4 linked regions of the Homo sapiens genome follow. The protein of the gene in region 4 purifies or fractionates together with the protein of the main gene of each other region. This does not show direct contact. Each region holds a gene or a part of one and is shown on either strand. Other genes may lie near its edges.

Region 1 (3,900 bases), about 77 Mb from region 4:
AAAATGCTTTTGAATTAATAATCCAACCCACATGAGCTGAGAGTTTTTCTTTTGTTAGAAAAGAAACAGACATCTTTCTGTATGAAAGTATAAATTGTATGGTTTTAGATACATAAGAATTGACAAAAGCGAGCGAAATCTTTGTACTTCTGAGTTCTTGCTGTATGTATGTTTTGTTTTAAATCTGATTAGGGACACCCAGCAGCTGGCCGGGATTCTTGGATTGCTCCTTGGGAGTTAAGATTGTCAATACTCCTGTGAAGCAAGGGATTTCAGCCATAGAACAAAGATTTATTGTTGCCACCTGAAAAGTTTACAAGTATTTATTGTGTATTTGATACATTGCTTGAAAAGATGAAATCTGTTAAAGATTCTTTTCGATGTCCAGGTTAAGAAGAAACCTCCTTGTATTGAGTGAAATTATATGTTAAATGTATTAGAGAATGTAGGTGGTATAGAAATTGATTTTTCTTGGTGTAGAACAACTCAGTTCGGCAAAGTTTAAAATTTGATTAAACAAGAGAAGTGGTTCAGGTTGAAGATGGACTTGTTAGGAAGTGATCAAGTCCTTTAAGTACTTGTTTCTTTTTCAGGTTGTGATGTGGCCATTCCGAATTTTGTTGAGAGTTTGGTTTATAATTGTCTCTTTTGTCTTGTTAGTAAACATTCATTTGCAACAGTTTTGAAGGTGCTGAGTGGAAAACCGAAACACATGGTTATTGCGTATTGGACCTAGAATGAAATAATTGCCTCAATATTTAACAACAAGCCATTCTTATCTCAAAGATTTAAATTCCCGAATGTCCCATTCGCAAATCATATGCAATTGAAGTGAGCAGCATGAGCATCTGGGTCATGAGGGCCTTCATTTACGTAAATTTGTCACTAAAACCCAGTAGTAGCTCTACAAAATCTTAAACTGCTGCAGTGCTCAAGGAGATGGAATATCTTTGTCATTGGTGCTGAGGAGAGCATTTCGGTAGAAGACAGTTGCGCCTGAAGATTGAGTGTAAATCATTCAAACCAGTGGTTCTCAGTGTTGGCTGTATACACTTTGTAGTCACTTTGGAATGTTGGAAGACACATCGATGCTTGGGTTCCGTATGCCAAGATTCTGATGTTGGTCTGGAATATGAGCTGGTCATAAGGATTTTTAAAAACTTTCTGGTCATTTCAATATGCTGCCAAGGTTGAGAACCACTGTTGTAAAATTCACCTTGAGTTTTCTCATCTGCAAAATAGAAAAAAAAAAATCCTTGCTCCCTCCCTTCACTACCTCACAAGGATATTGAGGGTAAAGGAGAAAATAATGGGAAAGTGCTTGTGCCGTGGATGAAAAGTGCTATTAAAAGTCAAAGGAGTGTTCTGTTTCAATTCATAGTATGATCAGGGAAAGTGTAACTGAGTATACTTTGTTGACTTGGGAAACCTGGAGCACTTTCTTTGGTTGGTTAACGAAGCATGCAGATGTGGAAGCAGACGTTACTATTATCCCTACTATGGTCTTCTGTCATACTGAGACAGGCTGTTTTAATTACCTGGTTTTACATAGGAAAGAAGAAATATTAAGGCTTAAAGTTTGTAATGATCAATGGCTCATAATTCATTAAATCTTTTCATACAAGGAATTTGTGGTTAATGTCATTTCATAGTTGCCATTATTTTCTCATTATTTGACTTAAATGTTAAGCCATTTATTTCATCTCCCTCATTCACATAAAGTGTAGATATGGATTCAATAAGACACCAAAAGAAAGTAAGATTTACCCAGTTAATATTTAAAATCATTGTTCAGTGATTAGGCATTTTCTGCCTTTTAGAATTATTTGACTGGAGAAAGAGTTTCAAAAATAGCAGAGCCCTAAACCATAAAGAAACTACTACTGTATAATGAACTTTTGTTTGTTTTTGGAGACAGGGTTTCACTCTACTGCCTAGGCAGGTCTTGAACTCCTGGGCTCAAGCAGTCTTCCTGCCTCAGCCTCCCAAGTAGCTGGGATTACAGGTGTATGCCACTATACCCAGCTTTAACTTTTAAATCCCCAAACTATGTAGATTGTCATATTAATATTAATTTTTTTTTGTTATTTTGAAGAAGTGAGTAATTTGAAGAGATAGAAACTTAGGGAGTGGTGTGTGTGTTTCTTTTTTGGAGACAGAGTCACGCAGGCTGGAGTGCACGATCTTGACTCACTGCAACCTTTGCCACCCAGGTTCAAGCAATTCTCGTGCCTCAGCCTCCCGAGTAGCATGTGCCACCACACCTGGCTAATTTTTTTCTTTTTTCTTTTAGACGGAGTCTTGCTCTGTTGCCCAGGCTGGAGTGCGGTGGTGTGATCTCAGTTCACTGCAACCTTTGCCTCCCGGGTTCAAGTGATTCTCCTGCCTCAGTCTCCCGAGTAGCTGGGATTACAGGCACCTGCCACCATGCCTGGCTAATTTTTGTATTTTTAATAGAGACGGGGTTTCACCATGTTGGCCAGGCTGGTCTCGAACTCCTGACCTTGTGATCCACCCACCTCAGCCTCCCAAAGTGCTGGGATTACAGGCATGAGCCACTGTTCCCGGGCCTAATCTTTGTATTTTTAGTAGAGGGGGTTTATGCCATGTTGGCCAGGCTGGTCTTGAACTCCTGGCCAACACCACCCACCTCGCCTCCCAAAGTGCTGGGGTTACAGGCGCGAGCCACCGTGCCAGGCCAGAAATTTAAGGAGTTTTAAAGGTTAGCATTGAAAAGATTACTTTCCAGAAATTGAGACCACCACAGTTCCACAATTGGGACTGTGGTAGATAATCAGGACCACTTGGAAGCCTTTATTAGGAACAGCCCACACCCAGCCCAAATGCTGTCCTCAAAAACATTCCTCAGTTTCTCTAGCTGAATGTAATCTCTCCTTGAAATTTCCCTAGTTTTATATATCTATAGTTGACTCATGCTGTATTTATTTATACCTTGTTTAAAATTATTTATTGATTATTTATTGGTGTCATATCGCCCCTAAACTGGGACAGGATCTCTAACGGACTCATCTTTGTGCCACAACATGTAAGCCCAATAGGCAGGTGCTCACATATTTGCTGAAGGAACAGAGAAAGAACTGCGGAGAAAGACAAAAGCTCCTCTGAAGTTTTAGACTATAGAAGCAAAAATTATAGTAGCAAAAGATGAATGAGAAATTCTGTTCTAGTCCCAGTGAAGCAGGAAGGAAAGGGTTGCAAACTTGAGGCTGGTAAGGAAGAAATAATTACTGTGAATGCATTTAGCCACTCCCCTCTACTCAAAAATACTGGTAAACTCTGATTTTTATATTTGTTTAGAATTTAAATTAGAATTCTGTATCTTTATTTTTTGGAATTCTGTTGTTTTGCCTTAGTTTCTTAATAAAAAGTTAAACATTAACCACCTGTGATTGCTTACATTTAAAGACATTTTTTACACATTGGTTAGAAAGAAAAATTGGGGTGCCTTAATAGCCAGAGGTGGTGATGGAATTTACCTATAAATTCCATGGCTTTAATAATAGAATCCACATTCCCCATGTTTAGAATGGAAAGTGGACAGAGAACAGTAATTCACTAGGGTCTTATTTCCCAATTGCCTCTACCGCCCCCCACCCCACCCTCCTGCTGACATTTGTTTGATAATGCAGTTGTTTGCCAAGAATTATGAGAGACAGGCATGCTATTCCTGAACTGGCTGAATACACGGCTCCTGTGATCCAAAAGCTTAAAAGAGAATCAGTTGATGATGTTGCTAAACAAGTTGGCTGATATGTTAAAGTTCAAAGCATTTTAATTTTTTTTTTTTTTTTTTTTTTTTTTTTTTTTTTTTTTTTTTTTTTGAGACAAAGTCTTGCTCTGTCACCCAGGCTGGAGAGCAGTTGATGTGCTCTCGGCTCA
Region 2 (3,500 bases), on a different chromosome or scaffold from region 4:
TTTATTTTAATTAGCTTCTGTATTTTCCACATCTGTAGAATATTATTTTAATGAATGTTAATACATGTTAATTCATAGCATGCATCAGTCAAGATGGGTTAGATTATGCTGTGTTAACGAACAGCTCCCAAAATCTTCTGGTTTGTAGTGTTTTCTACTTATTTTGGTTTATATTTTTTTAACGTAACCAGCACAATGCCCAGTAAATCACAGGTACTCTGTAACTGTTTTTTTGAGACGGAGTCTCACTCTGTCACCCAGGCTGTAGTGCAGTGGTGTGATCTCCGCTCACTGCAAGCTCCGCCTCCCAGGTTCACACCATTCTCCTGCCTCAGCCTCCCGAGTAGCTGGGACTACAGGCACCCACCACCACGCCCAGCTAATTTTTGCTATTTTTAGTAGAGACGGGGTTTCACCGTGTTAGCCAGGATGGTCTCGATCTCCTGACCTCGTGATCTGCCCGCCTCGGCCTCCCAAAGTGCTGGGATTACAGATGTGAGCCACCGTGCCTGACCACTATTTTTATTATGTTTAGTAGTAGTGAGCTTATCATATAATTCTAAGTAGACAGTAATTCTGTGATTACATGATATACACTGGGAAGATACACTGTGGATGATGTAACTATGGTTTGAATGCACAACTGGCTGACAGGTATATTCAGAGATAATTTTTTATTGTATCACTGTTATTCTAAGATATACTGTGGGGTAAGAGTTATTTTAGTAGTTTCACTCAGAACTTAAATAGTATAGTAAAAAAATAACTAAATGTCATCAGAAAATTACTTAAAATTCTTTAAGCTTTTATTTCTTCACTGATAAGATGAGGATCGTAATATCTATACTGCTTAACTCACAGAACTAACTAAGATGATATATATAAAAGCATCAAAAGCATTTTACAGGCTATAAGATAATAAAGTGTAAGTTCTGTTACAGAGATCAACGCTTACTGTAAGAATTCTAAGTCATTACGGAAAAAGCTAGTTGTGTTCACTAGAGTTTGCATAAGAGTCCTGGACTGTGTAATGTATTTTACAAAATTTTCATTAAAATATTTATAGCTCAAGAAGCAAAATATCTACTATCAGAAAAATTCAGTGCTGTTGGATAGCTTATCCTCCATAGATAAAGAATAAGTCAGGTGTTACTGACATTATTTCTCATATGTCCAGAAACCTGAAGATATGTTAGCATTAAATTCATAAGAGATTAGTGCCATTTCTTTGTCATGTTCTTTTGAATAATGTCCAATATTCATCTTTGGGGTGTGGAGGATTTGGTACTGAAGAAAATATCAAATGTCAGTTAAAATGAAGACTCCAGAGGGTTGGTGATGAAGATGTTTAGTAGAATCTATTTCTCTAGAGCCTGGCACTGTTTCTGACACATATGTGGTGTTCAATATACATTTGTTAACTAAATAGCAAGATGTAACTTTTAAATCATGATTTTGATTTATGACTGTAAGGAGAAATTTCCTAAAATTATAAAAATTGTTGGAGTATTAAAAAATGGTTGAATTCAGGGCATAAATTTCTGAGTGACCCTTGTTTGAGTTTTGGTGTGTATTTTCAAAATGTTATGTTACTTTATAGTTGTGTATTCTGCTTTCTTAAGTGAAAGTAAGCTGTTATCCTGTTTTCTTTTAATTTATGTCAATCAGTCATTCAATAAGATCTCATTAATGCATTAAAATCTGTATGTAAGTTTCTTCAGTATATAAATTTAATGATTCTTGGGATTAGTCTCAGTTGCTTCAATATTTAAAAGTATAATTAATATTTTTTACCCCACTAAATTGGATCGAAATTATTTGATAGTGTCACACAGTCCTACAATGCAAAAACAGCTTAAACTACAAATGCCATAGATAGACAGACAGACAGATAGATATTCCTTTTTATTCATTTTAAGATTACATCAAAATAGTACAGAAGGTTTAACTGAATGTATCCATGTGGTCAAATACGCTAAAAGGAGTTTTGCAGGAGGAATCAGAATCTGTGTAAATGAAGGAAATAGAATCTGTAGAGTGCTGCCAAGTTATGGATATTAAAAACAGCGATTGTGGAATTTAATTCCTATATAAAATATTTAAAACCCAATTTATATAATAAAATCAAATCTATTAATTCATTTGCCTTTTTTAAAAAAAGCTTTTTTATATTGCTGGATGGAATTTTTTGACCCAGTGGTACTAAATGTGCATTATTTAACAAAAGCCAATACTGGCAGTAAAAGCAATTCTAAATAACCTTCCAAGACATTCTCAGAGGGTAGCAGTACCAGTAAGCACTGGAAAATTAGTTTTATTTTTAATTATGAATAAATTAGGGTCTTTAAAATATTTTGTTTAGTTCATATAATGTGATGATTCGGTTTTCCTTCTAAAGATACTTCATTGGGCTGATAGAATTGGAAAGAACTCTACCGGTTTATCTAACCCCTCCTGTTACCGAAGGAGGACACAGAGGTTCAGAGAAGAGTAAGATTCCTAAAAGCAGTTGATAGGCATAGTGCTATGACCTTTGAAGCAGTTTGTACACATGGGACAGTTTTAACATTGCAGATGTGTCATGTGGTTTTTCTTTGGGAGCAATTAGAGTAATTTTTAACCTGAAAATCATTGGAAACATTTTTTATTTCAAGAAGCTAATCTATTGTGCTAAGGTTTTCTTTTTCATCCCCCTTATTAGCCTGGGCATTTTGATAAATGTAACTAATATTATCTAGCACTTTTCAATTTCACAAACATATTTATATTTTACATTCTCACTTGAGTCTCAGAACCACCTTGTCAGATAAGGCAATACTACTCTTATCCCACAGATGAGGAGACTGAGGCTAAAGGAAATTTAATTGTTCAGATCATGTAGGTAAGCACAGTAGGAGGCAGAGCCACATTTGAACCCAGACCTTTCTACTCCAGAACCTTTGTCCCATCTCTGTCTAGTTTACATAGTTGGAAGTTGCTTTTTAAAAGTCAGATTGTTGGGCAAGGGAGGGGAAAAAATAAATAAATAAATAAAAGATCATTGTGATGACACATCACTATTTAAAGGAATTCTGTGGTCAGCCCTTTTGTTATAGGAAAAATGTCTTACTAGCTACCACGTGTTGAATGCCTGCTGTGGGCCAGGCAGTGTGGTAGGTGCTAACCCTCAGAATCTGCGAAGCGTTTTAGAAGGGAAGTTGTGCTGCTTATCTAGTAAGTAACTCACGTAGGATTGTTTGCCTCCAAAACCCCAACTTCCAGCTATACCCCAAATTCAGGTTTCCCTAAAGGAGAACACACTCATATGCTTATAGCAAAATCATTTTTTAATGTGCTCCTCATGAATTACATACATGGGTGTTGATATTTACACATCTAGATTTCCATTTATTGATGCAGTAATTGCAAAAATACTACTATTGGCTCAGAAGCTCATGAAATTTAAAAAAGAAAGCCAGGAAGGTAAATCAATCAATAGCTGTTTATACAAGTATAATTGC
Region 3 (3,500 bases), on a different chromosome or scaffold from region 4:
TTGGAGATTTTATGAAAAGATAATTGAATTAGATGGGAGCTGAGAGAAAAGGAGAATAGGGGAAGGAATAGTATTTACCGAGTATTTTCCAAGAGCCAGGCACTGTTGCTTTACATGCATTATTACTTCATTTAACCCTTAAAACAACCACACTGGCCGGGCGCAGTGGCTCATGCCTGTAATCCCAGCACTTTGGGAGGCCAAGGCGGGTAGATCACAAGGTCAGGAGATGGAGACCATCCTGGCCAACATGGTGAAACTCTGTCTCTACTAAAAATACAAAAATTAGCCAGGTGTGGTGGCACGTGCCTGTAGTCCCAGCTACTTGGGAGGCTGAGGCAGGAGAATCACTTGAACCTGGGAGGCGGAGGTTGCAGTGAGCCAAGATCGCGCCACTGCACTCCAGCCTGGTGACAGAGCCAGACTCTGTCAAAAAAAAAAAAAAAAAAAAAAAAAAACAACAAAACACACAAATAACCACACAAGTTAGGTACTGTTTATCTCATTTGACAGATAAAGAAACTGAAGCTCAGAAACCTTGAGTGATTTGCCCAAAGTCACACAAATAGTAAAGGACAAGGTGACCTCATAATATACAGTCTTCACCATTTCTATCTCTACTCTATTGGAAGCTTAGTTTGTCCTCCAAGTTGACAGTGTTTTCACGTGTTCCATAAAGCAACAGAAGTTTGCATTTGAGGGGAAAATCTCCAAATGATCTGCTCTTAGCTACTGAGTAAATCATCAACGCAATGGCATTCTTGGGGCTGAGGGTTTTAAATGCAACAAGCAGTGGGAAGAGGTCATCAAGAGGATCCCTAATGCTCACCGACAAGAGGAAAAGGACTTCCATGGGGAGGCTGCAGGACTGCTGCAGGGATAAGGAGGGCAGCAAGGTCCGATTTAAGGAAGTGACTTTTATAGTAACAAGAAGAGAGAGTTCGTCTAATGGTTTGTATGAAAGGTAAACCCTTGGCCAGGCACAGTGGTTCGCGCCTGTAATCCCAGCACTTTGGGAGGCCGAGATGGACAGACCACCTGAGGTTGGGAGTTCAAGACCAGCCTGACCAACATGGAGAAACCCTATCTCTACTAAAAATACGAAATTAGCCAGGCGTGGTGGTGCATGCCTGTAATCCCAGCTACTCGGGAGACCGAGGCAGAAGAATCGCTTGAACCCGGGAGGCAGAGGTTGCGGTGAGGTGAGATCGTGCCAATGCACTCCAACCCGGGCAACAAAAGCGAAACTCTGTCTCAAAAAAGAAAAAAAAAGAAATGTAAACCCTCTAGAAGAAAGAAGCTAGAAGGAATAAAAGAGAGCAGTGCGTTTTAACATCATGTATATGGAATGGGAAGAACAAAGATGGTAGTAGGCTGGGTGGAAGAGAGTTAGAACTAACAAAAACCCAGAGCTAGAGAGACAAATATACGTAGGCAGGCCCATCCCATGGCTAAGTTGTAACAATGAGGAAAACTGCATTTGCCACTTTCTCTCCTTCCTTGACTCCTCTCAAGTCCCCTAATGCCTACAATCCTCAAGCTGCTTCCAGACTGGTATAAGGATAAAAGCTAAGGTGTTACAATTGTGGTTGAACAGCAAGAAATAAGATTGTCTAGGATATTCACTTTAAATGGTGCCGATTTGCATTAAGACCATTTTTAGGAACTCTAGATTTGAGAAAAAAAATCAATAAGGGAAGTGGAGAAGAGAAGTGAAAACAAAGATGCTAATCAGCTAAATGGACTGAGCATAAGAAGCAGGAAACATAAATCACATATACAGTTCCCCAGGACAAAACTGCAGGTGTCAAATCTGAATATAAAACGAAGTTAACTTTTAAGTTTTCGTTAAAAGAAAAAAAATTCTCTCTCTGGCACATCTTTTCTCTAATGGAAACTAGGTCTTCCCTGGCAGCCGCTGCTTCTCCTGTTTAGTGCCTACCTACCACATACCACAGAGTCCAGAGTGGGAGAGGGGAAAGATGATCTCCTTGTTCCTCAATGCTTCTCTTCCCTCTTCTCTCAAACATTCCGCTCACCCAAAGCACATGCCTTGGGAGATGACACCACGCTCCCCAGTATGCTGACCTATAGCCTTCCTGGTACTACTTTTCATTCATTGACAATTTTGCTGGCTAGCACACTGTCATCTTTGTTACTATTGCTCCTATCCTCTCCCTTGTTCACATCATATTTCAAGTCCATGTACACCAACATCTGATTTTTCAGTTCTTTGATCTCACTTTGCACAAGCTTTTCCTTCACCTCACCCCAGTTGCCAACTCTCCTGGTCACTGTCTAGACTATATACATCATTACTAACATCCGTTTGATCTCCAAAATGTCAACTCCAGCCATCCCATGTCTCCAGCCCTTCAGCTCACTTACTTTACTATCCACACAGCCAGCAGAAAATCGGACCTTAGTTCCACAACCACAGGAAATGAATTCTGCCAGAAACCAACGAGGTCGAGAGGGCTGGAGCTCCAGATGGAACTCTAGCCCTAGCAACACCTTGCAGTGCAACTGCAGCACATGGATTTCAGCCTTGTGAGACCCTGAGTAGAGGACCCAGCTACTCCATGCCCTGACTTCTGACCCAGAAAACTGTGAGATCCTGAGATTATGTTATTTTAAGCCACAAAGTTTATAGTAATTTTTTATGCAGCCATAGACAACTAATATACCTCCTTAGAAAAATTTTAAAATCTTGCTCAGGAACCACTCTTCTTAGAAAGTAAAGGAAGGGAAAAATGCAAATACATATAATTTAGTAATTTTGTCCCTGTAACAAAATTAATGTTAATAATAGCTAGTACTTAGTTCTAGACATTGTCCTCAGTGCTTAATATATCATTTAATCTTTACATCCACACTGAGAAGCTATTATTATCTCCATTTACAGATAAAAAAACTGAAGTTCCTACCTGAGGTCACATAGCTAAAAAGCAGTAGAGCTGGCTGGGCGCGGTGGCTCATGCCTGTAATCCCAGCACTTTGGGAGGCCAAGGCGGGCAGATTACAAGGTCAAGAGATCAGGACCATCCTGGCCAACACGGTGAAACCCCGTCTCTACTAAAAATACAAAAATTAGCTGGGCGTGGTGGCGTGCATCTGTAGTTCCAGCTACTTGGGAGGCTAAGGCAGGAGAATCGCTTGAACCCGGGAGGCAGATGTTGCAGTGAGCCAAAATTGTGCCACTGTATTCCAGCCTGGAGACAGAGCGAGACTCCGTCTTAAAAAAAAAAAAAAAAAAAAAGTAGCAGAGCTGGGATTCAACCGAGGACTCATCTTGTTTCCAAAACTCATGCTCTGAACTACTTACTATACTACAGGGTGAGTATCCCTTATCCAAAATGCTTGGGACAAGAAGTGTTTAGATTTCGGATATTTTCAGACTTTGGAGTACTCTATGTGCACTATATACTTTCCAGTTGAGCATCCCTAACCCAAAAATCTCCAGTCTAAAATGCTCCAGTGAGCATCTCCTTTGAACACAC
Region 4 (3,500 bases):
CCTTAGACCATTCAGAGAATGATCCCCAAGTATTTTTCATAAACCCCATAGGGTTTCCTACATTAAAATAAAGTGACAGAGATCACGCCTTGAATAATTTCACAATTCCAGCAATGAGTTGTACTACTTCCAAATGACGAATTTTCTGCTCCAAATAATGGGACAAAGGGCATCATCACATGGACACAGTCAATTTCACAGTGATGGACTCACACAGGTGGATGATCTGAGGCACAAGCTGTGATTGGTCTTAAGAAAATGAAAGGTAGAGTTGGGTTCAAAATCCACATCTCACGATTTCTGGTCCTTATTCATCCAAAAAGTTGAACTGCTTCATATCAGTGTATTAGACACATTTTAAATCTTTCTCAAGAGTTGCTCTGGGTGCAGCATGATAAGGAAAACCAGGTATTTGGCTTGATAGCAGATATTCAAGGTATAGGTGCCAAGCTTATGGTAAGCTTCTCACCGTAGGATATCTGAGATCTGTTGCCACAAAGAGGACTATGGTCCTATGATGACTACTATAGTTCAGTTTTCAACATTTTGGGAATAATTTGATCATAACCTTTCCTTCTCGTTACATTATAAGACAGGAATTTAGAGTATTCACTCAAGAGGTTCTCCCAGTAACAGGTGATGTCATCCATCTGCAAATGGTTCCTAATAAACTGGCTTCCCCTAGAGACAAGATTTAACAAGAAAATGTTAAAGCACAGAATTTAATGATAATAGCAGTCTGCATTTGAGTGCTCACCTTGTGCCAAGCATTATTCAGCATTTTATATAAATTAATTCATTTGAGCCTCAAGAACCAACCCTATGGCAATCATATCCACATACATGCATGTAGCAATACAACTTAACAATCTTTTTCCTTTATTTATTTATTTATTTATTTATTTTTTGAGACGGAGTTTCGCTCTTGTTGCTCATGCTGGAGCGCAATGGTGCGATCTTGGCTCACTGCAACCTCCGCCTCCCGGGTTCAAGTGATTCTCCTGCCTCAGCCTCCCGAGTAGCTGGGATTACAGGCACGCACCACCACACCCGGCTAATTTTTTTGTATTTCTAGTAGAGATGGGGTTTCACCATGGCTAGGCTGGTCTTGAACTTCTGACCTCAGGTGATCCGCCCACCTCGGCCTTCCAGAGTGCTGGGATTACAGGCGTTAGCCACCACGCCCGGCCCATCTTTTTCCTTTAAAACAAGCATATGTAGACATGTGTGTATGTTTTCCCCCAGGACAGGTTTAGTTCTGAATTATCTCCATATAATGAGGATAAAATACAGATGTCACCATGATAACAATATTCAGATAACTTTGGCTAGGGCATAATGGGGATGACAAAAAGTAAAGTGGAAAAGGGAAAATGAACAGAACTCACCTTTCAGCAATCTCTTGAGCTACATCATCATTTGCTTTTACAAATTGTAACAGCTCTCTAAAATGAAAAGAATTTTAGACTGTGAAATATAGACCAACTTCATTGGCACTAAGTCAGAAAGACGATATAGATTGAGGTCTATGGATAATTTTAGGTATGTGGATGGTGGATTATTTCCTTCAAGCAAAGATATCAGGGTTCTCTCAAGAACAAAATAATAACAAAAAAAAACCCCCACACACTGATTAAAGATACCCTATTGTAGATTTGGGACATATTTGAGAAAATACAGAAGTTACCTTATATATTTACATATATTTTGTATATTTATATTATATATTATATTAGATATTTATATTATTTTACATATTTATATATAAATATATTTATATATAGAAAAAAAATATATATACACAGATATCACCATGATAACAATATTCAGATAACTCTGGCCCTTCTCTATACTTCTTCCTAGCTCCTCCTGTCATGAAAGGAAATTTGCTGAAGCTTCACTTGAGTCAATTCTCATGCTGTATCTGAAAATCCTTTTGACAATATAATAAGATTGAATATCCCTATCTTTAGTCTTGGAGAGATTAGAGCTTTTTAACTTCATTTTGTCTGAACGTTTCATTTGAAACCAGTATTAAAGCGCTTTTTCAAATTAAATTCCACTTATAGCCTACTTGGATAATAATGCAATACTATATATGCAAACCAAGAGGAAAAAAAGCTTTCAATGGAAAAAAATCGTAGGACTAAATGTCTTACATGACTGGTTTTAAGGCATTAAGGCATTTTTAAAAGCAGATTGGAAGGGTCTTTAGAAACTCTGCATTGGGGGATAACTGCTTACTGGACATTGGAGAGATCTGTTTTGACTGGGATATAGTGAACCCATGGCTTCAGCTGTGGATAGAAGAATTCTAGCCACTCATCACCAACATGGAAAACAAGTGAGCCACACAGGAAGAGGTGTTTAAACCGGAAACTTGCAGCTACGCCTCGAAAATTAAACAGATACCTGGGGAAAAAAGAACAAAATACATTTGATACTATATGCCTGCTGCCACAAATATGACCTTTTATGCTTATTCTCCCCTCCCCTTCTTTCCTTTTATGATTCCTCTCCATTCTCTTTCCACTTTGAGTTTTCAAGGACACATTAATATGTTCCTAAGTGGTTTCTATCAGCCACTTTACCAGGGCTAGGACTACAGGTTGTTCTGGGAATGGCAGGGTGAGGAAAAATAGGGGATATTTTCTCCAGACAGCACTAGATAGGGTCAGGAGCTGGGTGCCGGGTAGAGTGTATACAGGGCTCAGAAGGAAATGACAGCTTGTAGATTTGGAACATATCTGAGAAAATAAATGTTCAATGGTAAACATAAAATAAAACGAGTGAAAAAAATTTCACAAGCTTTTCTAGGCCTAATGTCTCTAACTAGTCATGGCCTCCCAAAGCCTTGTTTTTCCTCTAGTGTACCCCATCTGGTCGAAGGTCTCCACTGCTTCCTGGACATCACCCTCTTCTCTTAAAGTATAGAGCAGCGGTCCCCAACCTCTTTGGCACCAGGGACCAGTTTCATGGGAGACAATTTTTCCATGGATGGGTAGTGTGGGGGAGATGGTTTTGGATGAAACTGTTCCACCTCAGATCATCAGGCATTAGTTAGATTCTCATAAGGAGCACGCAACCTTGATCCCTTGCATACACAGTTCACAATACAGTTTGTGCTCCTATGAGAATCTAATGCCAAGGCTGATCTGACAGAAGGCAGAGCTCAGGCGGTAATGCTCGCTTCCCCACTGCTCACCTCCTGCCATGCAGCCTGGTTCCTAATAGACCAGTACCATGGCAGGGGGTTGGGGACCCCTGGTGTAGAGAGGAGAATGAGGAAAACCTAATCAATTTTCAGAGATTGCCCACAGGGGAAAAAAAAAAAACAAAAAAAGCTGTCTTCTTCTCAGCATTTCTTATGCACGCACCTGTCGCCAACCAGAGTTGCTTTCACCATATAGCTCCTACTCTGCGTGTCATTAGCACTCCTAACTCTGAGCCACCCCCACCACCACTGCCCTCCTCTAGACCTGGTTTTACCTGTTCATCTA

Evidence for each region. Proteins that work in one complex are often made in the same cells at the same time.
Region 1: the proteins of POGLUT1 (region 4) and FBXO45 purify together in Homo sapiens (affinity purification with mass spectrometry; one large-scale study listed by BioGRID and IntAct). This does not show direct contact.
Region 2: the proteins of POGLUT1 (region 4) and RASSF8 purify together in Homo sapiens (co-immunoprecipitation; one large-scale study listed by IntAct). This does not show direct contact.
Region 3: the proteins of POGLUT1 (region 4) and QRSL1 fractionate together in Homo sapiens (co-fractionation; one large-scale study listed by BioGRID). This does not show direct contact.

Annotation. Positions count from the first base shown.
Region 1 is NC_000003.12:196,585,660-196,589,559, forward strand, and holds the end of FBXO45 (F-box/SPRY domain-containing protein 1), read left to right. Parts: 3' UTR 1-3,400; downstream 3,401-3,900. UniProt on the Homo sapiens protein: Component of E3 ubiquitin ligase complex consisting of FBXO45, MYCBP2 and SKP1. Functions in substrate recognition but also plays an important role in assembly of the complex.
Region 2 is NC_000012.12:26,059,682-26,063,181, forward strand, and holds part of RASSF8 (ras association domain-containing protein 8), read left to right. Parts: intron 1-3,500.
Region 3 is NC_000006.12:106,636,078-106,639,577, reverse strand, and holds part of QRSL1 (glutamyl-tRNA(Gln) amidotransferase subunit A, mitochondrial), read right to left. Parts: intron 1-3,500. UniProt on the Homo sapiens protein: Allows the formation of correctly charged Gln-tRNA(Gln) through the transamidation of misacylated Glu-tRNA(Gln) in the mitochondria. The reaction takes place in the presence of glutamine and ATP through an activated gamma-phospho-Glu-tRNA(Gln).
Region 4 is NC_000003.12:119,489,463-119,492,962, reverse strand, and holds part of POGLUT1 (protein O-glucosyltransferase 1 precursor), read right to left. Parts: intron 2,413-3,500; coding exon 2,245-2,412; intron 1,446-2,244; coding exon 1,389-1,445; intron 682-1,388; coding exon 525-681; 3' UTR 1-524. UniProt on the Homo sapiens protein: Dual specificity glycosyltransferase that catalyzes the transfer of glucose and xylose from UDP-glucose and UDP-xylose, respectively, to a serine residue found in the consensus sequence of C-X-S-X-P-C.